7 linked regions of the Homo sapiens genome follow. The protein of the gene in region 3 purifies or fractionates together with the protein of the main gene of each other region. This does not show direct contact. Each region holds a gene or a part of one and is shown on either strand. Other genes may lie near its edges.

What was found.
Region 1: the proteins of GFOD1 (region 3) and PI4K2B purify together in Homo sapiens (affinity purification with mass spectrometry; 3 studies listed by BioGRID and IntAct, with this or other methods). This does not show direct contact.
Region 2: the proteins of GFOD1 (region 3) and FBXO9 purify together in Homo sapiens (affinity purification with mass spectrometry; 3 studies listed by BioGRID and IntAct, with this or other methods). This does not show direct contact.
Region 4: the proteins of GFOD1 (region 3) and ESPL1 purify together in Homo sapiens (affinity purification with mass spectrometry; 3 studies listed by BioGRID and IntAct, with this or other methods). This does not show direct contact.
Region 5: the proteins of GFOD1 (region 3) and RALGAPA2 purify together in Homo sapiens (affinity purification with mass spectrometry; 4 studies listed by BioGRID and IntAct, with this or other methods). This does not show direct contact.
Region 6: the proteins of GFOD1 (region 3) and BCAT1 purify together in Homo sapiens (affinity purification with mass spectrometry; 3 studies listed by BioGRID and IntAct, with this or other methods). This does not show direct contact.
Region 7: the proteins of GFOD1 (region 3) and SBF1 purify together in Homo sapiens (affinity purification with mass spectrometry; 3 studies listed by BioGRID and IntAct, with this or other methods). This does not show direct contact.

What each region holds. Positions count from the first base shown.
Region 1 is NC_000004.12:25,275,533-25,279,032, reverse strand, and holds part of PI4K2B (phosphatidylinositol 4-kinase type 2-beta), read right to left. Parts: intron 2,020-3,500; coding exon 1,846-2,019; 3' UTR 1-1,845. UniProt on the Homo sapiens protein: Together with PI4K2A and the type III PI4Ks (PIK4CA and PIK4CB) it contributes to the overall PI4-kinase activity of the cell. This contribution may be especially significant in plasma membrane, endosomal and Golgi compartments.
Region 2 is NC_000006.12:53,068,404-53,071,903, forward strand, and holds part of FBXO9 (F-box only protein 9), read left to right. Parts: intron 1-2,569; exon of another isoform or gene 2,570-2,620; coding exon of another isoform or gene 2,621-2,653; coding exon 2,654-2,740; intron 2,741-3,500.
Region 3 is NC_000006.12:13,369,101-13,372,600, forward strand, and holds part of GFOD1 (glucose-fructose oxidoreductase domain-containing protein 1 isoform 1 precursor), read right to left. Parts: intron 1-3,500.
Region 4 is NC_000012.12:53,274,799-53,278,298, reverse strand, and holds part of ESPL1 (separin), read right to left. Parts: intron 3,483-3,500; coding exon 3,289-3,482; intron 1,680-3,288; coding exon 1,440-1,679; intron 1,217-1,439; coding exon 1,072-1,216; intron 830-1,071; coding exon 691-829; intron 479-690; coding exon 339-478; intron 1-338. UniProt on the Homo sapiens protein: Caspase-like protease, which plays a central role in the chromosome segregation by cleaving the SCC1/RAD21 subunit of the cohesin complex at the onset of anaphase. During most of the cell cycle, it is inactivated by different mechanisms.
Region 5 is NC_000020.11:20,506,645-20,510,144, forward strand, and holds part of RALGAPA2 (ral GTPase-activating protein subunit alpha-2), read right to left. Parts: intron 1-3,500.
Region 6 is NC_000012.12:24,827,102-24,830,601, forward strand, and holds part of BCAT1 (branched-chain-amino-acid aminotransferase, cytosolic), read right to left. Parts: intron 2,797-3,500; coding exon 2,722-2,796; intron 1-2,721.
Region 7 is NC_000022.11:50,454,536-50,458,035, reverse strand, and holds part of SBF1 (myotubularin-related protein 5), read left to right. Parts: intron 1-924; coding exon 925-1,002; intron 1,003-1,362; coding exon 1,363-1,544; intron 1,545-1,640; coding exon 1,641-1,820; intron 1,821-2,453; coding exon 2,454-2,555; intron 2,556-2,626; coding exon 2,627-2,812; intron 2,813-2,893; coding exon 2,894-3,020; intron 3,021-3,091; coding exon 3,092-3,222; intron 3,223-3,293; coding exon 3,294-3,500. UniProt on the Homo sapiens protein: Acts as an adapter for the phosphatase MTMR2 to regulate MTMR2 catalytic activity and subcellular location. Promotes the exchange of GDP to GTP, converting inactive GDP-bound Rab proteins into their active GTP-bound form.

The sequences.
Region 1 (3,500 bases), on a different chromosome or scaffold from region 3:
CTTATTGAAAAAAAACCATACTATTTAAATAAGAATTCAGTTCATGAAAGTTTACAAAATACAACCAATGTACTCTGACTTGTGGTTATATCTTAACTATCTCAACTGTACTTTTCTGGTATGGCCAGACCTTTTGCAAATATTACCATGGTATTTTAATTTTATGATATAAAACAGTAGCAATTTATTAAGTTTTCCATTATAAAAATTAATATGGCAATTCTCAAAATACTGAAAAAACTGTTTTATGAAAGCAGTACCCACATCACTGCAACGTATTTCCTTTCTCTTAGAAAACATCTTCAAAAGGCACATTTTAATTACTAGTGTTTATATCTAAAGATAGTAGTTTGAGTTTTGAATTTCCAGTCAATTTTCCATTATCTCAAAATTGAGCTAATGGAGGGTTGGAAGAGGTAGGAGAACGCAGGTTTCCAATGAACTCCCTCAGGGCAGCAGAATCCTCATTCATCTCGTCCATGAAGACCAAAAGGAAGATATAAGGGAAAAAGGAATGGCAGATCTGTTTTGCATCCTAATTTAACCTTCTACACAAAATACTTCATTAAAAGCAAATAAACAAACACAAGATAGTAAGCTTAGAAAACAAAAGGCCTAGACCACAAATTACCCAGTTAAGCCCAAGTGGTGACATTGGTTTTAAGCCTCAAGAAAATGAAACTTCTGCTTCTGTAAAATCACATCTTCATCAATTGAATTTAAATCACTTAGTGCATTAACAATGTTACAAATTCCAATAATGTCAGACATATGGATGATATTCAAAATAAAGTACAAAAATACATTTCAAAATCAAATATAAATGACTTTATGGTTATCTGCCATGCTCCCCTTTAATTTGGCCTGATAGTCTACATTTGACTGTAATTATAATAACATCTGTAATTTCAAGTACAATAGTACAATCATAATAATTTTGAAGAACGTATGACCTAGGACCCCAAAATGCAATCCAATATACAATTTGGAGTATGGTTTACTTTTTAGTGAAGTTTAATACTAATTGAAGTACTAAATTGAACAAGGCCAGTACTCTGAAGTACTAATCTCAAGTATTTGATCCCATGTAAGAAACAGAAGGGAATTTTTAAGGCAATTTTGGTATTCCAAAATATTGGGGATCTACCTTAATTTTCTATTATTCCCCTCAAGTCTCAATTGAATATTTCCATTTTTTAAAAAAAGGGGAAATTTCTTAGGTTTTTTCCTCACTACAACAAAGTAATTCACCAAAAATATTCTCAAGTACAAAAACCAAAATGGTCCTCTATTACTTAGCCAAGATATAATTTTCTGGTCCCTAATAATGGTCACTTTAGGAGTACTTATTCAAATTCTAAAATAGCAGCTTTTGAAATTAAGGCAACATTGCTTTATTCTTACCTGTTTTTCTATTAGCTAACTATTTTATTAAAGTTCGTAAGAGCAATTTCAGACGTAGGCATCCTCAAAGGCCTTTTGTAATGTAAGAAGAATTAGCATGAACATTCTTCTCAATATTAAAAGTTATTGTATTCTACTTGGAATTCTAGAGTAATTACAGTCATTCCAGCATGTGTAAAATTACCTTTTAAACTAACAACAACATAAAATACAAATTTTCTACAAAAATACAATATAGGAGATATAGCACTTCTTCCCTGAAATAGAAATTTAATATTTGGACAAAAAACTGTAAACTTTTGGTTACATTCAAAATACAACCTTTTAAAGACTTAAATTGAGGTTTTAGCAACTGGAGCTCCTAACAGCAGATTTATATTACTATGATGTTTTAAAAACATGATAATTCTAAACAGTTTGTTTCTCTTACTCTGACATTTACTACCAGGAGGAAAAAAATGGCTTCCTGCAATTGACAGTCTGGGTAAAGGAATTGCTCAGGTGGACAATCCGACCCTGACTTCCACCTTGACTGCGTTCCACAATCACACAAGGTATCTGTACTAGCTGGAAAGGACTCTTCCCGTCTCTCAATGCCTGAGTAAGGTTTAAGATCTGTGGGAAGAAGAGAGATTTTTACCAATTTAAAAAGATAAAAAGCTTCACTTCACTGACATTTTTTAAACCATTTATTCATTATAATTTTTATTTCATCCATTTATGAGCAACAGAGACTGTGAAGATAAGTACCTGTTATAAATATGTATTATATGAATGTATGTTTACACACACACGCGCACACACACACGCGCACACACACACACACACAATTAGCATTAAATAACTTTTGCCAGATGGTAAGTTTAAAATATTCTAGAATATCCTGCCTATGTCCAGGAGCAATGGAATCAAAGAACGGTAAGTGAAGAGGTCTACATACATATTCAATTTAACATAAAAACTCAACAAATACTGGTTTAAACAGTCTGGTTTTAACTAAATACTTGCCTTATCCATTCATTCAACAAATTTATTGTATGCCTACTATGTGCGAGGTTCTGCTGTAAGTGCTAGGGATACAATAGTTAAAAAAACAAGCAAACTTGCTGCCTTCGTAGAGCTTACACTTTAGCAGGGAGAAGAGTCAATAAACATGAATATGTAAATTATGCCATGTATTAGAAGGTGAAATTGCTATGGGAAAGCATGAAGCAGGGCAAATAGGTTAGAGAATTTGGGAAGGCAGTCATTTCAAATAAAGGTACATTTAAGAGTTTACTCTTAAGAAAAATAAAATTAGGGAAAGTAAAATATATTACATATCATGTTCAAAGATACTCTGGGAATTTCTACTTGGGCATGCAAATAAGGTTATGAAACACAATACATAGATTATTCTGGTCTCTGTTCAGGTCAAATAAAATTATAGCAGTTCATCTTCTTTTTTCCCTGCATATTAGGAAAAATGTCCTTTCTTGTATATTTTAGAAATACAGATTTCTCCTTCAGGTATTTGAAAATATCTAATATATACATCCTATGCATTTCACTGGTTCTTGTAAAGACTAGTCAATAGTGATAAGCATAAATGTTTCCACATAAAGCCATACTAATAAATAAACTTCATAATACTTTAAATAGTATAAACTAGATGGTTGGTTGATTGATTGATTGATTGACTGATTGATTGTAGAGATGGGGTCTTGCTATGTTGCCAGGGCTGATCTTGAACTCCTGGCTCATGCAATCCTCCTGCCTTGGCCTCTTAAAGTGCTGAGATTACAGGTGTGAGCCACCACAGCTGGCCAAACTAGATGATTTTAGTTTGTAGAATATTTGGAGCATTTAACACATCAGGAAAATAGATCTTTACTAGTAACAGTGTTATAGGTTATGTTTATGTTTTAGGATCACTTTTAAGTTCTTCCCTTAACATTTTCTTTTTTTTTGTTTTGTTTTGTTTTGTTTTTGAGACAGGGTCTTGCTCTGTCACCCAGGCTGGAGTGCAGAGTGCAATCACAGTGCACTGCAGCCTCTGCCTCCTGGGCTCAAGCGATCCTCCCACCCCAGACTCCAGAGTAGCTGGGCCTAGAGGC
Region 2 (3,500 bases), about 40 Mb from region 3:
CCAAGTCACACACAGTAATTCCAGTCTAGCTTTATTCCACTGAAGCCGATCCAATATATAAAAATTGGATTTATAGACAGATAAAATAGAAGGGGTTTCTTTACAAAAGCATTTACTATTAAAAGTCTTTGACTAAGCTTTCCTAGTACATATAAAATACACAGAAGTCATATTTTCATAGAACACATTTAATAACATGCTAGCTGTATAAAAGAAGTGACATCATCTTACGGAATATATATATATATGTGTTTTTTTTTTTTTTTTGAGACAGGGTCTCTCTCTGTCTCCTGGGTTGGAGAGCAGTGGTGCAGTCTCGGCTCACTGCAACCTGCATCTCCCAGGCTCAAGCAATCCTCTCACCTCAGCCTCCCGAGTAGCTGGGGCTACTGTGTACCACCACCCCCTGGTAATTTTTGTATTTTTTGTAGAGACGGGGTCTTGCCATGTTGCCCAGCCTTGTCTCAAACTCCTGGGCTCAAGCAGTCCTTCCACCTCAGCCTTCCAAAGTGTTGGGATTACAGGCATGAGCCACCACACCCTGCCTGGACTGTATTCTCTTAAGTGATCCATGAAGCAAAAACTATCTGCTACAGCCAGGTATGGCTGCACAAGCCTGTAGTCTCAGCTACTCAAGAGGTGGAGCAGAAGGATCTTTGGAGCTCAGGAGTTTGAGGCCATCCTGGGCTGCATAAGGAGACTCTGTCCCAAGAAAGCAATAACTATTTGCTGAACTCCATAGGACAACTAAATGTTACTATTTTCTGAAACAAAGTTGTTATTTTTAGCCACCTAACAATACATTTTAACCTAGAACCCAGTGGATTTGTTTATTCTACAGTATCAAAAAAAATTCAAGTATCAAGTTATATCTGATTGGTATCATTAAACTTACCTGTGAAGAAGATAACTATAAAGAAGCAATGTTGTATTTCATTAACATGAAACATTAGAGTATTTTCTGTTTTGGGACTTGTAGAAGTTTATGGACACTAAAATTATTTGGGCTTTTTGCCTTAGACTCAATTATGTTTGGAACATCTGTCACAGCACCTTGTCAACTGCATTCTAGAACATTTCTCCTCCTGATGGAAAATACAACATGACCTATGAGGCAGTCTTGCAAAAGAAAAAAGAAATAGCAGAATCTAATCTAGCCTTTCAAGATCCTGCCACAATTTATAGGAAATAAGAGTAAGAGGTCAAAGGAACATATTTATTGACACCTCAGCAAAATCTAGCTTCTACAGAAAAACGACCCAGTTTCATCCCAAATAAATTACAAGAAAAAAGAGTGAGGATTACAAAAGACTTGAGACATATCAAGCAATTACAATGTGGACTTTATTTGAATCTTGATTTCACAAACTGTGAAATATATGTATTTTACATATGACATCTTGAGAAATATGAATACTGTGACTTGATATTTGATCTAAGGAATTACATTGATAATTATTGAAGTTGGGTCATGAGTACTTAGGGATTAATTCTCTTTAAGTGTTTTTCTCATAAAAAGTTTTAAAGTCTTGTAGAACTAAAAAAATACCAAAGATGTTCTAATTTTATTTCATTTTTTTCTAAGAAGAATAATATTTTTCTTTTCTTTTTTCCTTTTTTTTTTTTTTTTTTTTTTTATGATGGGGTCTCTGTCATCCAGGCTGGAGTGCAATGGTGCAGTCTCGGCTCACTGCAACCTCCATCTCTCAGGCTCAAGCAACCCTCCCACCTCAGCCTCCCAATTAGCTGGGACCACAGGCGTGTACCACCACGCCTGGCTGATTTTTTGTATTTTTAGTAGAGATGGGGTTTCACTATGTTGGCTAGGCTGGTCTTGAACTCCTGACCTCAAGTGATGCTCCTGCCTCAGCCTCACAAAGTGTGGGGATTACAGGTGTGAGCCACCGCACCTGGCCAGAAAAAGAGAAAATAATTTTTATTATAGATTATCAGTAGTTATGTATATTAATGAAGAATTTGGCTTCATTTACCTAATTAGATTAATCATAAATCATTTATGAATAGTAATAGACTTGAATTGTTACTTTATATTACACAGTTGGCCCTCTGTACCTGCAGGTTCTGCATCCTGGGATTCAACTGTGGATCAAAAATATTTGGGGGAAAAAAAGCAATACAACAATAAAAAATAATACAAATTAGGAAAAATATACTACAAGAACTATTTACATGGCATTTACATTATAAGTAACCTAGAGATGACTTAAAGTATATGAGAAGATGTGCATAGGTTATATGCAAATATGCCATATGAGGGACTGGAAAACCCAGGGATTTTGGTGTCCTGGGGGCTCCTGGAACTAATCACCTGTGGATACTGAGGGACAACTGTAATTAAATTGATTTTTGGATGGATGCAACTGATGTTAAATTTGGCGGGGGGGAAATGTTAGGATTCACAATAACGTGAGTACTGTGGGTTGGAGTAGAGAATATGCTTTTCAGACTCATTTTCCTTTGGAAATTAATAGTAAGGTCTCAAGTGCCCCCTACAGCCTTGCTACTCAAAGTGGGTTCCACAAAGTGTTGACAGTATGGTACTAAATAGAAAGTGGCTGAATGAGAAATGTAGATTGCAGAGGGCAACTGGTGTGTTTATATGCCTGACATTATTTGGGTTTTCCCCCCTCAGGCAGAAGCTGAGGAAGATTGTCATTCTGATACTGTCAGAGCAGATGATGATGAAGAAAATGAAAGTCCTGCTGAAACAGATCTGCAGGCATGTTTCTTCAATTGTGTCTTTGATTTTTATTCCATTGTTCCCATACATATGCAGAAATTGATCATAATCATGGGTATTTGTAGGTTATTACTGTTTGCATGGAATTTAACTGTTTCCATACTGGTTTATAGAATACTTAAAACTATGTTATGGCTTTCTTTGTGAAAAGAAATATCAATAATGGTTGCTTGTAGTTTAACATGGGTTTAAAGTATTCAAACTAAGGCTTACGCATGACTCAAAACCCATAATCTTAAAAAGATTGATGGGTTTGACCACCTAAAAGTTTAAAACCTGTGTATAAGAAAAGGCATCATAAATAAAGTTAAGAGAAATAGCCAGCTGGAAAAACTGTTTATTATATATGGGCAGAGGATTCATCTCATTACATAGAGCACTCATATATTTGGAAGAACAGAGGATAAAAAGATATGAGTGGACTGTTAATGGCAAAATAATACAAATGGCCATTAAATATTTGAAGAGATAATTAGCCTCATTAATAATTTAATCAGATTGGTGAATAATGTGCATCGCTGTCCAAGCTGTGAGAACACTCATGCAGTGTACATGAAAATGTAAATTGGTACAGCTTTCTGGAGGGCAGACTGGTGATATGGATCAAAATGAAAAACATGCATTCCCTTGATACAGCAATTCTACTTCCAGGAAATTAATTTTAAGGAAATAGTGGGGAAAGTAAATATGCAACTATAAAGATGTTTAGTATAGCATTGTTTATCTGGAAAAACATCAT
Region 3 (3,500 bases):
TAAGGGCTGGGTTGTTTAATGCTTAAGTCTCCATTAATACCCACAGCACCCTGTGGTGCATCCAGTGTGCAGCAGGAACCCAGCAAACCTTGTTGCCTGCCCCACCTTTGTGCCCACAGTCTTTTGCAACATTCATGCTTTACAGATGGGTCTCGGCAACATCTTAACACACGATATCTTCAAAAGTCAAACGAGACTTCTAGGAATTTCTCATAAAGAACTAATCCAATATGCAAGCATGGCTTCTTGCCCAAAGATAGTTTTGACTGCATTATTTATTATAGCAAAAAACTGGGAACAGAGGTTGGATGCAGTGGCTTCACGCCCATAATTCTGGAGTTTTGGGGAGATCACTTGAGGCCAGGAGTTTGAGACCAGTCTGGACAACATAGCAAGATCCCATTTCTTAAAAAAAGCCAGGCGTGGTGATGCATGCCTGTAGTCCCAGCTACTTAGGAGGCTGAGGTGGGAGCATCACTTAAGCCCAGGAGTTTAAAGCTGCAGTGAGCTATGACTGTGTCACTGCACTCCAGCCTAGGTGACAGTGAGACCCTGTCTCAAAACAAAAAACAAAACAACTATGAGCAACGCAAATACCCAACAGAAAAAGGGTTAAGTCAACTGTCATGCAGCCATATAATAGAATATTGTGCAACCATAGAAAATGATGCTTATGGAGACTTTTCAATGGCAAGTAAGATGATTATGATGTAATGTTAAATGAAAAGGGCTCTATTCATAGACATATATGATCTCAACCCTCTCTGAAATGACAAAAGAAAAAGAAAAACCCTAGGAGGTTTACTCTGATTAGTAGGAGTGGTTGGATTAGTAGGATTATGATTGATTTTATTTTCTTCACATTTTTCCATATTTTCTAAATTTGTAATTTTATGGTCAGAAAAAAAAAGCTAATTAAAAAAATCCACAAAGAGACAGGAAGACCTTTGAAGGACAGCACTCACAATAATGGAAAAAGGGTCCTCCAAAGTCTAGGGGAGCTGGCAGGTCCCAGCTCTCATGGGCCCATCCCAGTTCCTGAGCCCCAGAGAGCTGGTAGAAGGTTCTGCTGACCCTGAATCTTGAAAGCTTCAGAAGCCCGGGCTCTGTTGCCAGGTCTTCTTGCTCCATTTGCTCAAGACCTCTTTATGATTCTTACTGAAAGCTGTGGACTCTCTCTCCAAAACATGCAACTCAGACAGATGCACAAAACTCTGCCACAACCTGAAGCCCATGCACGGATCCCCTCCGGTTCTGAGGCCCAGGCATCATCATACATTCACAATAAATTCTTAAAGGCTTTGGGACATATTGTTAAAAATAAGATAATCCTTCCAGTTCCAAAAGGAACCCAAAACGCAGAGCCAGCAGACCCTTCACGAATTGCTAAGCAAAGTTTGTTTTCTCTGCATTCTGGACAGTCTTCCCTTACCCTACCTCTCTCGGTGGGCTTCTGAAAAGCCCACTCTGAGATCCTCAAGATCCTCAGGTTTTTTCTTTTTCCAGCTTTTCCCCACCCAAATCTTCGCTATCAAAAGGTTCTTGCTAAAGGAGCACAATTCTAAGTATAGACTTCTAGTCAGACACTGTGTGTGTGTGTATATGTGTTTATGTGTGTGTGTGTGTATGTATGTATGTGTGTAGGTGGATTAGTGTGGCACAGAGCATTCCTCTCATCCCTAAAACCACGTGCAACGTAAAGGGAACTTGCATTGTCTGAGTGTGTGGTTGACATACCCCACAATCCTGGGTGTGTCAGATGCCATTCACTGTATGCTGGGATTTCTCCCGAAGAAAGCACACAGGTACCTGTTCTGCAAACTGCCTGTCTGTCAGCCTGGGCTTTGGACTCGGCTCTCCAGCAAATACCACAGGTATTTGATCTTCTCATGACAATCATCTGTCTTAGCATAGGAGAAAGCACCAAAATGGCTCTTTAGAGAAAAGCACTCTCTCCCATTTAATGTAGGAAATAAGTAGAGGCAGTCTTGCACTCTTCTCTAAGCACGTGGCTATGACATTTCTTTGACTTGAGGGTAAGTAGATTCTACCGGGAAGACAGAAAATGAGGGGTTCAGGCAGAGGCAGAGGCCCTGTTTTCTTATAAGCCCTTTACAGCCATGGCTAATTTCCTAATGGAGAAACCTACAAAGGCTTTCCCCCTTTTGCCATGAGAAAAGAATACTGCCCTAGGTCACTGTGCACAGCCTAAGGAGGCCATCTGCACTTTCTTACTCCTAGGTGAACAACTTCCCTGAAAAGACAAGGGAGCCACTTGTCCCATGCTGAGTCCACACACCTCTGGGAGCACCAGGCCAACACACGTTCTTTAGGTCTCAGGTTTACATCCTCTTGTGGCAAAATGTGGTGCCCACTTTCTGAGGCAAAAAGATCAAAAACTTTGGGACTTCAAACAATTTCAGAGATAAAAATCATGCTGCAGAGAATTAGGCAAAGGGACTTGGAACATATGGACTCTATTTCACTCCAGATTAACAGGCAGTGAAAAATGAAAACCATGAAAACAAGAAGTGCCTGAGAAAGTATGTTTTGTGTTTTGCCAAGCCCCAAACATTTCCCAAGTGGTGGGAGAGGTCTGGCAAAGTCCCCTGGTGCTCTCAATGGTGGTAGAGGAACGGGAGGGGCTTTCTGTGCACATGCGGGTATGATGGGTGAGGGTCACTCTGCTGCATCCATCCAGGACTGTGAACCATCACGCCACGGCTCCATGCTCAGCTCGCCCCCCTGAGGGCTCTGTCCCTGCATCCAGAAATGGCTGTCTTGGAGGGTTGCCGCATCTGTCAATGTGATGCAGTGTGACCACGGGTGAGTGGCAGAAAGCACACGAGGACTGGCCTGAGTCTTCTGGGGAGGCCTTCACAACTCACTCCACAAAGACCAGGCAGCCCTTTGTGTGAGAACAAAGAGCTAAAGCTGGGTCTTTTGAAGGCTTTGGGGCTTGAACCAACTTAAAATTTTAAGACAATATCCTCTCAGCAGCAAATAAAGCGAAGCTATCTGTCTTTAAAATGGTGGAGCTGAGAGATACCTTCCAACCTATGTTGCCGTGCTGTAATTAGGAGCAAAATGAGATCCGTGGGAAACTTCTGACGGGTTAGAGTGCTATGTGCAAGGCAGTGTGCCTGATCTTCATCAGAAGCTTTTAAGTTAAATAATTTCAGAAGAAGCTTTACTGCCCTCCTGAGATCCCTCATGGGGAAATGGAAAATCAGCTCCCTCCGAAGCCTGCTGAATGTGTTCTCTGTAACCGAGCCAAAATATTCATGGCCCTCCTGAGAAATCTGTGCTATAGGGAAGAGTTTCCAGCCCAGAGACCCTAAAGCCCTTCAGGCAGCTGCTCCCCTTATATCCTCCAAGCTCAGGGTCTCCAAGTTGTGGCTGAGTCTCTGCTCCTATCTCAGGACAGATCAGAGCTTTGGTGGGGCTGACACTTGATCCAAATGGTACCCCTGGGAGTCTGGGCAAGGGGCTTCCCATTC
Region 4 (3,500 bases), on a different chromosome or scaffold from region 3:
TTCGCCGTGTTGCCCAGACTAAAGCTAACATTTGAGCATACCATTTACACAATACCTCTTCCATGCACTGCTGCACTGAATAATAACGCCACGAGGCAGTAGCATGGCCCCTATTTTAGAGATAAGGAAACTTGGGCTTAGGTTAAGCAACTTGCCCAAGGCCATACACTAATGAATGAGGGAGCTTGGATTTAAAATAAGACTGGTGATACAGCCCTGCGCTTCCATCACTGGCTTTCATGGCTTCTCAGGAGGATCACAGGCCAAAGAAGGCGAGGGAGCTGTTTCTGGTCTAGTCCTTGTTTATATGGGTCCCCCTCAATGCCCCACCCCATTACCTTTGCCACCAGCTGGTAGAGGGCTGCTAGGATCTGCAGTGAGGCTGCTGTCTGCTGGAGACACCGTACAGCTGGGGCCTGCCCCTTTGTAAGCAGCTCCTTCCACAGGGCCAGGGCTTGGTCCAGGCATTTGGACTGAGCTGTTAAGCCAGAAGAAAATGACTGCTGTCTCAGCATGGGCCATCTGGAGAGAACTTCCCTTCCTCCATAACATCCTCTGCCCTTTACGCCAACCTCCCACTGCTTCCACAACCTCCTACCCTACAAGGTCAGGGTTTCCCTCACCAGGGGTCCCTGTTCCACTCTTAGGAAGCCATGGAGATGCCCATGCCACACTCCATTTACCCCTCACCAGCATCTGCAGCCAGGTTGAAGGCAATGTTACTGTATAGGAAACGATCTTCCTGGAGTTTATCTTCATAGTTCAGGTCATTGACTTCAAATTCCTCCAAGTTACCAGGGGCCTGGGCTCTCCGATCCCGCTCGATACCCTGGATGGGAAGATCGGGGTATAAAACAGGGCACAGTGGTGTGGGCCTATCGTCCTGGCTACTCGGCAGGCTGAGGTGGGAGGATTGTTGGAGCCCAGGAGTTCAAGACCAGCCTGGGCAACAGAGAGACCCCATCTCTAAAAATAACGAACAAAAAAAAGGGCTGATACCAACTTGTTGGGGGCCCAGGGACAGTAATTCCTACACCCAGTTCTGGTGAGCCCCACAGCAGCCACACTCACTTCCTGCATTTTGGCTTCCAGAGTACAGATGTAAAGCCACAGCAAGGCCTGTGCTTTATCGTCCAGAAGCTGATCTCTGGCCTGGGCCTCAGGCCTCACAGAGTCCAGAAGCTGCAGGGCTTCCCGGATAGCATCCAGAGCAGAGCTGCAGGGAGAAGATGTGCTTAAGCTGGGCCTACTATGAGTATCTGCCATAGCGCCCTGGGAAGGGCTAGCTGCAGAACAGCTGGCCTCGCCCTTTGCATGTGCTCCCATGGCCACAAGATGAAGGGAGAGCTCAGGGCTGTGGAGAGGGAAACTGGTTCTCAAGAGGGTGAGAGGACCTAGGGCAAGGAGCAAGAGTGGCCTCTGCAGCTACTACTCCTTACCAGTTGGTCTGCTGCGTAAAGTCGTGGTAGCAGAGCACCTGAGCCAGTTCTACCAGGTGGGTGGCTCGTGCCCAGGCCCCGGCTGGTGTCTCCTCGGGGCTCAGCTCCAGGAGGTCACAGATGATGTTGAAGCGTTCCTGTCCAGTGTCGGCCCGCACCGCCTTGTAGGCCTGCAGCTCCTCCCTCAGCAGGAGGGCCAGGGTCTCCGGGTCCCAGCCACTGAGGCTGTCTCGCAGAGTCCTGAGAGAGGGCATGCTCAGCACCAGGGTGGAACCCAGGAGGCATAAAGCCTCTGCTACCTGCTCCCATGCTGAGGAGCCCCAGCCTTGGCTTGCTCAGTAGGTTTCCAGTCATGGCTTTAAAAATTTAAATCAGATTGCATTGCTCCTCTGTTTAACAAACGGCAGTGGGCTCCCACTAGGAATCATTTCCAAAGCCCTGACCATGGCCTATAAGGCCCTGTGTGATCTGGCCGCTTCCCACTTTGACCACCTTCATTCCATATGGTTCCCCATCCTATACCGCTATTCTACTACCCCCAGCATGCCGGCTTTCTCAAGCATGGTCCCAAGTTTGTTCCCACTTTGCAACCTTTGTATTTACTACTCTCTCTGCAAGGAATTCTCTTCCCTGAGTTTTTTGTTTGTTTTTTTTTAGACAGTCTCACTCTGTTGCCCAGGCTGGAGTGCAATAGCGTGATCACGGTTCACTACAGCCTTGATCTTCCAGGCTCATGTGATCCTCCCACTTCAGCCTCCTAACCAAGTGTAAATAGACTATAGGTTCATGCCACCACATTCGGCTAATATTTTTTAAGTAGAGTCAAGGTCTCGCTTTGTTGCCCAGGCTCCCTGAGATCTTTACAAAGTAGATTCCTTCACATCCTCAGGTCTCATCTATCACTTCTTCAAAAAGGGTTTTCCTAAATAACCCACCTCAAGTTGCTCCCTCTTTTAGCAAATCAGTTTAATTGTCTTCATAGAGCATACGTGAAGGCTGGGCGCACTGGCTCATGCCTGTAATCCTAGCACTTTGGGAGGCCAAGGTGGAAGGATCACTTGAGCTCAGGAGTTCAAGACCAGCCTAGGCAACATAGTGAGACCTTGTCTCTATTAAAAAAAAAAAAAAAAAAAGGAACAGACACAAAATGCAAAATGTACTTTTTAAAAATATCTCCCCAAGTAGAATATAAGCTCCATGAAAGCAAGACCACTGTCACCACTATACCCCCCAAGTAGCACAGTGGCTAGCATACAGTGGGCACTCAATGAATAACTAATGAATGAAGGAATTAGTATTTTTCAGACATAAAGATGAAAGGACATGACCATGAGTACCAAAAGCCACCCTATCCATGGGAGAAACATGGTTGACCCCCTCCCCAACTCACTTTTTTTTTGAGATGGAGTCTCCCTCTGTCACCCAGGCTGGAGTGCAGTGGCACGATCTCGGCTCACTGCAACCTCCGCCTCCCGGGTTCACGCCATTCTCCTGCCTCAGCCTCCCGAGTAGCTGGGACTACAGGCACCCGCCACCACGCCCAGCTAATTTTTGTATTTTTAGTAGAGATGGGGTTTCACCGTATTAGCCAGGATGGTCTCGATCTCCTGACCTCATGATCTGCCCGCCTCGGCCTCCCAAAGTGCTGGGATTACATGTGTGCTGGGATTACATGTGTGAGCCACTGTGCACGGCCAATGCCCAGCTAATTTTTGTATTTGTAGTAGAGACGGGGTTTCACCATGTTGGCCATGGTCTCAAACTCCTGACCTCAAGTGATCCACCCGCCTCGGCTTCCCAAAGTGCTGGGATTACAAGCATGAGCCACTGCGTCTGGCCCTCAACTCACTTTAGCTGTAGCTCCTTGTCTCCAGCCCTGGCCGCATCCATCTTGACCCGAACCCAGAAAGTGACTGGCTCAGCCATGTGTTCAGGGCTACAGGGTTGCAGGGCTGCCAGCCACAAAATCACCATCTTGCAGCCCTGGGCCTGTTTACCCAGTTTCTTCAAACTCTCTACTTGTAGCCGGAAGCACCTGTGCAACTGACCAGAGAAAGGGAA
Region 5 (3,500 bases), on a different chromosome or scaffold from region 3:
TCTTAAATACAGAAATATTTTTTCTGTCAAATTTAATATTTAATTTTTTAATATTTGTTTAGTATTTCAACATTGTAATTTGATTAGATATTGTATTGGTAGAACTGAGTTCCATATTTTAACAAATTATCTAAGATTTCCTTCTGTGTGAGTTATTTCTCTACTTAATAATCAGAACTAACTGATTCTCAATTAAAAAGTCATACAAATAACTGGAGGAAGAGAGTTCTCTCCTTTTACTCAGCTTATTCACTTCCCCTATGGTTTATATGCAATAAACATACTTGGAAGAAGAATTAGAAAATACAGAAAGAAAAGAGAAGAATAAAAATCACTTGCAGTTTCAACGGATAAGCAAAGAACATAGCCGTTACACCATTTTAGGATACACTTTTGCATGCACATATGAGAAGCTACTACATTCTGTTTTACAACAGATTTTTTCACTTAAAATATTTGTGAACACTTTTTTATTGTGGTAAAATATACATATCATAAAATTCACCATTTCAACCATTTTTTTAGTGTGAACACTTTTATATCATGTGCTTCTACAACAGAGGTTTAATGATTGTAACAACATTCCATTATATTAATATGTCATGGCCCAAATCTTCATTTAGGTTGCTTTCATTTTAAAAGACATTTTCACGTTATCTTTAATACATCCTTAAAGATAATCTTTAATGTTTTTAATCTTTTCACAATATCTTTTTTTGAGATAGTCTCACTTCGTCACCCAGGCTGGAGTGCAATGGCGTGATCTTGGATCACTGCAACCTCCACCTCCTGTGTTCCAGTGATTCTCGTGCCTCAGCCGTCCCAGTAGCTGGGACTACAGGTGCATGCTACCACACACCACCACACCTGGCTAATTTTTTTTATTATTTTTAGTAGAGACAGGGTTTCGCCATGTTGGCCAGGCTGATCTCAAACTCCTGATCTCAGGTGATCCACCTGCCTTGGCCTCCCAAAGTGTTGGCTTTATAGGGTTGAGCACCATGCCCAGCCCCAATATCTCTAATATGTCCTTAAAATAAATTTAGAAAACTTGTCCTCATGCAGCAGGAAGCCCTGAAAGTGCCACACCATTCACTGCCCTGAGCAACAGGCAGGGGACACCAATGGCGTAGAATCTAACTAGCCTATTCCAAGAGCTATAAAAATTTGGGCACTTGGATAATAACAGAAACCATAACCTATGACCTAAAAGACTGTCTCTTTCAACAAAAGTGGAGAAGTATAGTTATTCAGTTTTTATCTGAAGGTCTCTCTACATATGTAAAAACTCCTCAGCATTTAATTTTTCTTTGTTTTATAGACTTTACATACATAAAAACAGCCTCAGGTTTATCTACAATGTTTCAGTTTATTCTCCTTAAAAATCTAAGCTGTTTCCATTGCAGCTGTTCCTAAGTCCTTGAGCCCTCATTAACTCAATGTGAGAGCACAAGAGAGCTAAGCCTGAATGATGGGCTGACCAATGTGAGTGTGAGGAAAGATGACCTTTAGTTGTAAACATTCATCAAATTTCACATTCTCCAAAATGTTAGTACCACAGAGAGCCTGCTAGGATGCAGAAGCTGTGTCTGGCCTTATTAAAGCCATGCTTTTGAAATGATAATTAGCAACATCAACAGCACTTCACATCCATAAGAAGCACACCAATGCATGAAGGAGCAGGTAATTCAGAAACACACATACATGAAATTAACAATCTTCCCTTCCTCATTAGAATGCACTGTTCTTTCTTATTAGGAATAGACCAGAATAGCTCAGTTTCCTTGTGCTGTCACATGAAAAAGCCAAAGAAAAGCATGATTTTAACATCCACCTCCCCATGTAGTGGCAAGAAGGCATTTACATCTAACAGGGAAGCCCACTGTGATTTGTATGTACATTCATCATAGCACTGACAATCTAGACCATAGCTGCAAGATAGCCTCAACTTTTCCAAAGAACATGTTAAGAAGGAACTATACATCAAGAGCAGTGAGATACATTGATATCAGAATTAAACAGAAATGTTCTAAATGAAAGTTGACAGACAAGGTATTTTCTTACCTGCTACCTGACCAAAATACAGGGCAGTCTAGATTTCTCATAGCTGAAGAGTCCCAGACTTATTTCTAGTTTCTTCAAAAAGATCTTGAAAATACCCTTCACCATAAAATAAGTTGATACCCATTTGATGTCAAGAAGACACTAAATCCAGGAGTTGGGGTTTTAAGTGAAGGTTGATCAAGGGGCAGGGGACTGCCACTCAGCTATTCAAAGCCATATTTCGTTGCAACAGTACCCCAGGGAGCTAATTCAATTGTACCTCATGCAACTAAAGTGCATTAACGCTCAACAAATTGACCGCAATTACATGAAACCAAGTATTCACTTAATACTAAGAAGCCTGGAATAATTCAGCATACGCTTAAAAAGCTGAGTGTGGAACCCAAATGACTGCTTATTTAATACTGAAGGAAGGAGGGAGAGTGTGGTGAACCCCTGAGTTCTTCAGAATAAATCCCTTACAGAATTTCCATAGAGAAGTTGATCTATGTTCCTCTAGAGAAAAGGAATCACAAGAAGAATCAGGAAACAGAATACAGTGAAGGGCAAGGTGAGAAATGGCAGCTTCAGGTTTTTCATTTCTAATGACTTTAAAAAATTATTCAAATTCAAATCTTTTACTGTCTCACCTGATAAGTCAGGAAACAAAGACATTTAAAATGGCAATGGAGCTGCAGGCTTCTGGACAGAGAATGGCTCCTTTATCCAGGTAAAACTACAAATGAATATTTTAATTTTGTGTTTTTAAAAAAATGTCTGCATATTTGATACTGAAATATTTATCACTCTTTAAGGCCACCTAGGAAAAAAGGCCCTCATGTCCCCTTCTGCAGAGGGAATCAGGTTTGGAACAGCCATCCTGTCACATTCCCAAGACTTGGAAACATACACAAAACAGTTCATGCTTCAACATGTATGTAGCTATATGATGCAATAAGAGGCGCTCAGTGACCTGGGAGACAGGTGGGAAAGTAGAAGGGTGAAGAAAAGAAAAGAAAAAATGAAAAGAAAAGAAAACTTATGCCCTTCTGATTCCCACAAAATGGTCAATACAAACAAATCCATCTTAATACCATATGCTTCTGAAGGATGGAAACAATACATAGCTGTGAGTAAGTTTAATATTATTTTATCTACTCAGTCCTTAGTGACATTACCAAAGGACCTTTCTGAAATATAATCTTCCAAGTGTTTAAAAGAAAATTCCAACTGGACTTTGCTAGTTGGGTTTATATCCAATTCAAGAATTCAAAACACCAAAGAAGAATCACAGTTGTGAAGGTGATATGCAAATAATAGTGACATGAACCAAGAGTTTGCTTGAAAATAAAATTTAAGCATGTGTCACTTTGGGTTTCGATCAAAACTCTAAAATAAACAATAAAACCATCACAAAGCCACTGAAACACACACAATGGTGAAAATGTTCATTCAGC
Region 6 (3,500 bases), on a different chromosome or scaffold from region 3:
TCTTTTCCAATTTGGATGCCCTTTATTTATTTTTCCTGCCTATTTGCCCTGGCCTCTAAACCTCTGTTTTGGAAAAAGGCTTTCATGTAATCTAGCCAGTTATGTATTTTTTGTTCTATTTGTGTTCTTTATTTGAGCAAAACTGTAATAATTTATTATTTTCAGATTTACTCAGGCAACCTTAAAAAAATTAAAATGCCTAAGCCATCCATGCAGAAATTTTTATTAGCTACTCTTCAAATTACTTGTAAGTGTTGCTGTGTACAAAGGTAGAAAACAACTCTGACTAAATTTTATTTCTTCCAATATTAAGATATTCCTTTACTTAGCTTACAGAAAATTCTCATAGAAAACCTTTGCTGGAGAGCAGAAGTATGGCAGCTCATTGATTAAAAAACCACAATCAAGGCCAGGGTGCGGTGGCTCATGCCTGTAATCTCAGCACTTTGGGAGGCTAAGGTGGGCAAATCACTTGAGGCTAGGAGTTTGAGACCAGCCTGGCCAACATGGCGAAACCTCGACTCTACTAAAAATACAAAAATTAGCCAGGCATGATGGTGCATGCCCATAATCCCTGCTGTGTGGGAGGCTGAGGCACAAGAATCACTTGAACCCAGGAGGCAGGGGTTGCAGTGAGCTGAGATTGCACCACTGCACCCCAGCCTGAGCAACAGAGTAAGACTCTGTCTCAAAAAAACAAACAGAAACAAAAACACACTTTCTTTCTTTTTAATACTGTAAATTTGGCAGAAAACTTGCTGAGTAAGTCTCTTTTAAAACTGCCTTTTAAACTCTCTTTTAAACTTTTATTTTTATTTTATTTCCCTTTTTTTAGAGGAAGGTTCTCACTATGTTGCCTAGGCTAGTCTTGAACACCTGGCCTCAAGCGATCCTCCTGTCTTGGCCTCCCATAGTGTTGGGATTATAGGTGTGAGCCACTGCACCCAGCCAGAAATGCCATTTTTATCACTACCCAAGGACCTCCATTGCTCTCTGGAGGCCTGTTGCATTCTCAGCCACCTTTAAGTTTCACTTAGTTTCATGACTTAATGCCATCCGACATCACTCAAATGATCAAACTTTATTTTACTTTTCAATGTAAGTCTCAGGCCCTCTTGGATATTTTTACTAATTGACAAGGATAGTAACTGGCTTCAACAAAGTCTTCTAACTTGTGAAATGCTTGCAAATTACAGGATAATCTCTTTTCTGAGTAGCCCAGTGTTATCTGGTATTTAGCATGCCTGCTTAACTGCCTGATGAGGCATTACTGTAGATTATTGCTCAGAAAAAAAATAGGCAAAACAAAGTTAGCAGTATGAAAAAATAGACGTGTATACTCTTTGATCCCAGATTTATCCTTAGGAAGTAATCGAGGATGTACTGTCCATACTAGTGAAAAAAAAATTGCCAACAACATAAATGTTCAATAATATAATTTTTTAAAAAAATTATGGTACATCAATATAATGGAATTCAATTAAACTTTATAAATGGTGTTGGAGAAAACTACTTATTGATATAAAAAAGCAAAGCATTTATTCAGTGAAAAAACATGTAACAAAATTATGTACAATATGATCCCATTTTGTTAGGAAAAAATAACTATCTAAAAGTATACTGGCTGGGCATGGTGGCTCACGGCTGTAATCCCAGCACTTTGGGAAGCCAAGGCGGGTGGATCACCTGAGGTCAAGAGTTCAAGACCAGCCTGGCCAACAGGGCAAAACCTCATCTCTACTAAAAATACAAAAATTAGCCGGGAACGGTGGCATGAGACCTGTAATCCCAGCTACTCGGGAGGCTGAGGCAGAAGAATCGCTTGAACCCAGGAGGTGGAGGTTGTAGTGAGCTGAGATCATGCCACTGTTCTCCAGCCTGGGTGACACAGCGAGACTTAGTCTCAAAAATAAATAAGTAAATAAATAAATAAATAAATAAATAAATAAATAAAGTATATAAATGCTTACAAAATATTGAAGGTTAAGACATCAAAAAATGGCAGGGCACAGTGGTTCATGCCTGTAATCCCAACAATTTAGGAGGCCAAGGCAGGTGGATTACCTTAGGTCAGGAGTTCAAGACCAGCCTGGCCAACATGGTGAAATCCCATCTCTACTAAAAACACAAAAATTAGCTGGGCATGGTGGCGCACACCTATAATCCCAGCTACTCGGGAGGCTGAGGTAGGAAAATTGCTTGAACCCGGGAGGCAGAGGTTGCAGTGAGCCAAGATCGTGCCATCGTACTCCAGCCTGGGCAACAAGAGTGAAACTCCAGCTCAAAAATAAAAAGACATAAAAAATTAACAGTGATTATATCTCAGTGTTGGAATCACATGCACTGTAATTTTCTTCCTGAAGTTGCTTCTACTTTCAAATTTTTTCTTCCTTTTTTTAACAAAAGTTATGTTATCCTTCTTAATGAGATTTTTAAATGTTACCAAAAATTACATCTATTTTTTAATGTTAAGTAATGTGGAGTCCTGAACAATATTTTCTTTCTTTTTTTAAAACATACATCTTCTTTCCCATTTCTGCTTTGCTCATGCCCACACATTGTGTTGGGAATATCTTCCTTAAATTTAACTTATTGATCTCAAATTGTATTATTTAATCCTCTTCATTGAAATATAATTTAGTTGTAAGCTCTGACAGAAATAAGGTGACATAAAAAAAAGAAAAGAAAAGGAAAGAAAAGAAAAGAAAAGAAAAGCTTTACCTGGATATCAGTTAATTTGCTCAAGATGCGGCTTGCCAGCTTAGGACCATTCTCCATAGTTGGAATGTGTATTGTCTACAAAAGAAAGGGAAATGAGATAATTTGAGGGTACTCATGTATATGGTGATAACAGATAAGACACTCAAGCAATTCTGCTATACTAAGGCAATTCCACTGAAGTTAAGGAATAGCACTAAAACCTACTGACTCTGAGTGCTAGCACCTTATGCCAAAGACTTTCATATCCAAAATTTGAATAAAAACTAGCCAATGACAGGTTATACATTGCCTACCTACCAATTAATTTTAGGGCATAACTGGTTTGTATACCAGCCTTCAGGATCATTTGAAGAACCAAGGAGGAGCTACAGTTACCTAAAATAGTGGCTAAACTTAAAGAACCCTACCTCTTCCAAGATTCTGAGAATCTGTAAGGATGAATGATTGTCTTCTACATATTAACCCTCTGGCTAATATGAGAACTCAAAGATATTTTGCCACAGTTTAATGCAAGTCATTCTGGGAGCATAAATTAAAGCAAGTCTATGACTTCATAAAAGGGGCTTCTATACCTATCTCTGGCCCAAGGTAAACTTCCAGGGGCCACTACCTCCACAATATTGGATAGCATGATTAAATGCATGGCTGAAAGAGATTTCATGCTTCTAATTTGTATCTGAGTCATGCCTACTCATGCCTTGCTGGCTTGCAGGTTTTGATAGTTTGATTTTAGGAGATAGTCTGTGCTCTCAAACACTTTTCATATTATACCCTTTAGT
Region 7 (3,500 bases), on a different chromosome or scaffold from region 3:
GAGCCACTGCGCCTGGCCAGCTCTGACCTTTTTACAAGGATACACTGGGCCCTGGTTGGCGTCCAAAGCAGGCTGGTGCTGCGTCCTCACTGTGAGCTGGGCGCCTGCAGTGTGGCAGCCGTCAGAGGACACAGGGCGTGTTGGGCTGGCATTGTGCTTGGCCTGTAGTGACCACTTGGTGGACGAGGGGACATTGCCTCTCTCAGTCCCACCCTCGGGCCTTGCAGAAGCAGGTGAGCCTGGGCAGGGCCAGGCGCCCAGAGACCCTCTGTGGACCCCAGGCATCTCCCAGCCCTTTGGGCTGCCAGTCCTCCCTGTGCCTTCAGGCCACGTCGTCTGGACCGTAAACCTCAGCCTGGGACTCAGATCTGCCTGTGTCCTGGACTGAGCTGCTCTCCGTCCTTTTGGACTGGGCTCAGGCTCTGAGCCCACCCTCTCCCCTCTTCGGGAAGCCTCCAGGTCGCCTCTTCTCCAGGCCACACCTCTTGGGCACCTCCTGTTGCTGTGCCCTGGACAGAGGCGTCTACATGCTCATGTGTGGAGCGTTCTGAGCTGTGCCCATCACAAGCCCTGGCCCCCTGAGTGGAGGACAAAGGGCCAGGATGTGGAGGGAGGGACTCAGAGACAGACTTGCTCTAAGCTGGTTTGAGTGGGAAGAAAGGAAGTGTTAGAGGAGAGCCCGGGATCCCCACCGCATAGCCCTTCTGCTGCCACGGAGTGCTCTGCGGCCTGCCCTGCCCTGGCAGAGAGGCCCACACCAGGATGGCTCTTCCCACTTTCCTGCGATCAGGGACTTGGGGCTGACCCCTGCTGTCTCCAGGCTCCCTGGGGGCTTGGTGGAACCCTCTGACCTGTAGGCACCCCCAAGCTGGGCACGCCCAGGCCTGGGGCTAGGCCTGAGCCTTCTCTCTGCTGTGCCCTCAGTTCCCAGCCCCAGAGCCAGGGTCACCACGCTGTCCAACCCCATGGCGGCCTCGGCCTCCAGACGGACCGCACCCCGAGGTACCGTACCGAGCCTGCGCAGGCCCGCCTCCCCTTACTTGGTGCTGGCGGCCTCTAGTGTGCACTGAGTTATTGCGGGCACTAATGTCTCCCTCCACACCTGACACTAACGACCCGTCTCCCGAGCCCCAGTCCTTACCTCCCTGACCCGTGAGTCCTGCCCTAGAAACTAACACTGGCTGCCACCCCACGTCTCAGAATCTGTGTGTTCCAGCCCTCCTCTCGCACGGCCCTGCTGGGGTCCTGCCAACCACCCCTGCCCTGGGAGCTCAGCCCCCTCCCTGGAGGCCGGGCCCAGCCAGCCCCAGGTAAGTGGTGCCCTGGCCCCCTTTGGGTGCTTACCTGGCATCTCCTTCACAGGTAAGTGGGGCAGTGTCCGGACCAGTGGACGCAGCAGTGGCCTTGGCACCGATGTGGGCTCCCGGCTAGCTGGCAGAGACGCGCTGGCCCCACCCCAGGCCAACGGGGGCCCTCCCGACCCGGGCTTCCTGCGTCCGCAGCGAGCAGCCCTCTATATCCTTGGGGACAAAGCCCAGCTCAAGGTGACTGGGGTGCGGGGGGTGGGGGGTGAGGGTGGGGGCTCGGCAGGGGGCTTGGGGCCTCATGTGTCTCACGGGACTTGTCCGGATTCTTTTCAGGGTGTGCGGTCAGACCCCCTGCAGCAGTGGGAGCTGGTGCCCATTGAGGTATTCGAGGCACGGCAGGTGAAGGCTAGCTTCAAGAAGCTGCTGAAAGCATGTGTCCCAGGCTGCCCCGCTGCTGAGCCCAGCCCAGCCTCCTTCCTGCGCTCACTGGAGGACTCAGAGTGGCTGATCCAGGTCTCTGCACTGCCCCGTCCCTCTGCCCGCCTTGGTGCTGGGCCCTCCCCTTGGGTAGAGCCAAGTGGACGGGTCTAGGTTTGCTTGTCTGACAGTGTGGAGCGCTGGAAGGAGGAGGTGACAGCCACTTCCCACCCAGGCTCTGGTGCCTAGAAGGCAGCTGGGAGGCTGGGCCTGGCTGGGGCCAGCTGACAGTGAGAGTGGCCAGGGCTTGGGCATGGGTATGTCGGAGCAGCCTGCTGGGCCCACGTGGGCTGATGACCACACGGGGGATGCAGTTTATGGTTCTGGGCCCCTGCTGCATTCTCTCGGGGGTGGGTACTGACAGGATGCTGGCTTGGTAAACACTGGAGGGCTTGAAGGTAGGGCCACCGGCATCTTGAGGGACAGGGACGTCCCTCAGTCCTAGAGGGCTTGGAAGGGGGTGGGCTGTGACCAGCAGGCTGGAGGCGGTGGTCGGCACACCCAGAGCGAGCTGTGTTTGTCCAGTGCTCTGCCCGCATACAGGGCTTGGGGGGCTGTGGACAGGGCCTGCCTCCCCGCTGCCTGTGGACATGCGGGTCTCTGGCCTGGTGAGTGGCCAGGCGGGAGGGCGGTGGGTCCCCGAGGTGCTGAGGCCGCCTGTCCCTGCAGATCCACAAGCTGCTGCAGGTGTCTGTGCTGGTGGTGGAGCTCCTGGATTCAGGCTCCTCCGTGCTGGTGGGCCTGGAGGATGGCTGGGACATCACCACCCAGGTGTGTGGCGCGTGGGGCTGGGGTGGGCCAGGCTCCCGGGCTCCTCGCTGACCTCCTGGCGGTGCTGGCAGGTGGTATCCTTGGTGCAGCTGCTCTCAGACCCCTTCTACCGCACGCTGGAGGGCTTTCGCCTGCTGGTGGAGAAGGAGTGGCTGTCCTTCGGCCATCGCTTCAGCCACCGTGGAGCTCACACCCTGGCCGGGCAGAGCAGCGGCTTCACACCCGTCTTCCTGCAGTTCCTGGACTGCGTACACCAGGTGGGCAGGCCGCTGTGTGGGTGGGCCGGGACTGTGCACCCTGACCGCTGAGCCCTGGCCCCTGACCCACATGGCGTGCAGGTCCACCTGCAGTTCCCCATGGAGTTTGAGTTCAGCCAGTTCTACCTCAAGTTCCTCGGCTACCACCATGTGTCCCGCCGTTTCCGGACCTTCCTGCTCGACTCTGACTATGAGCGCATTGAGCTGGGTATGTGGGGAGTCGGGGCTGGGGCAGCCACGGGTCAGGAGGGGCCCAGGCTCAGTGCTGCTTCTGTGCAGGGCTGCTGTATGAGGAGAAGGGGGAACGCAGGGGCCAGGTGCCGTGCAGGTCTGTGTGGGAGTATGTGGACCGGCTGAGCAAGAGGACGCCTGTGTTCCACAATTACATGTATGCGCCCGAGGACGCAGAGGTAAGCTGGGGCCTGGGTCGGGTAGGCGGCTCCTGCCCGACCCAGGTCCTCAACCACAGGCCCACCCTCAGGTCCTGCGGCCCTACAGCAACGTGTCCAACCTGAAGGTGTGGGACTTCTACACTGAGGAGACGCTGGCCGAGGGCCCTCCCTATGACTGGGAACTGGCCCAGGGGCCCCCTGAACCCCCAGAGGAAGAACGGTCTGATGGAGGCGCTCCCCAGAGCAGGCGCCGCGTGGTGTGGCCCTGTTACGACAGCTGCCCGCGGGCCCAGCCT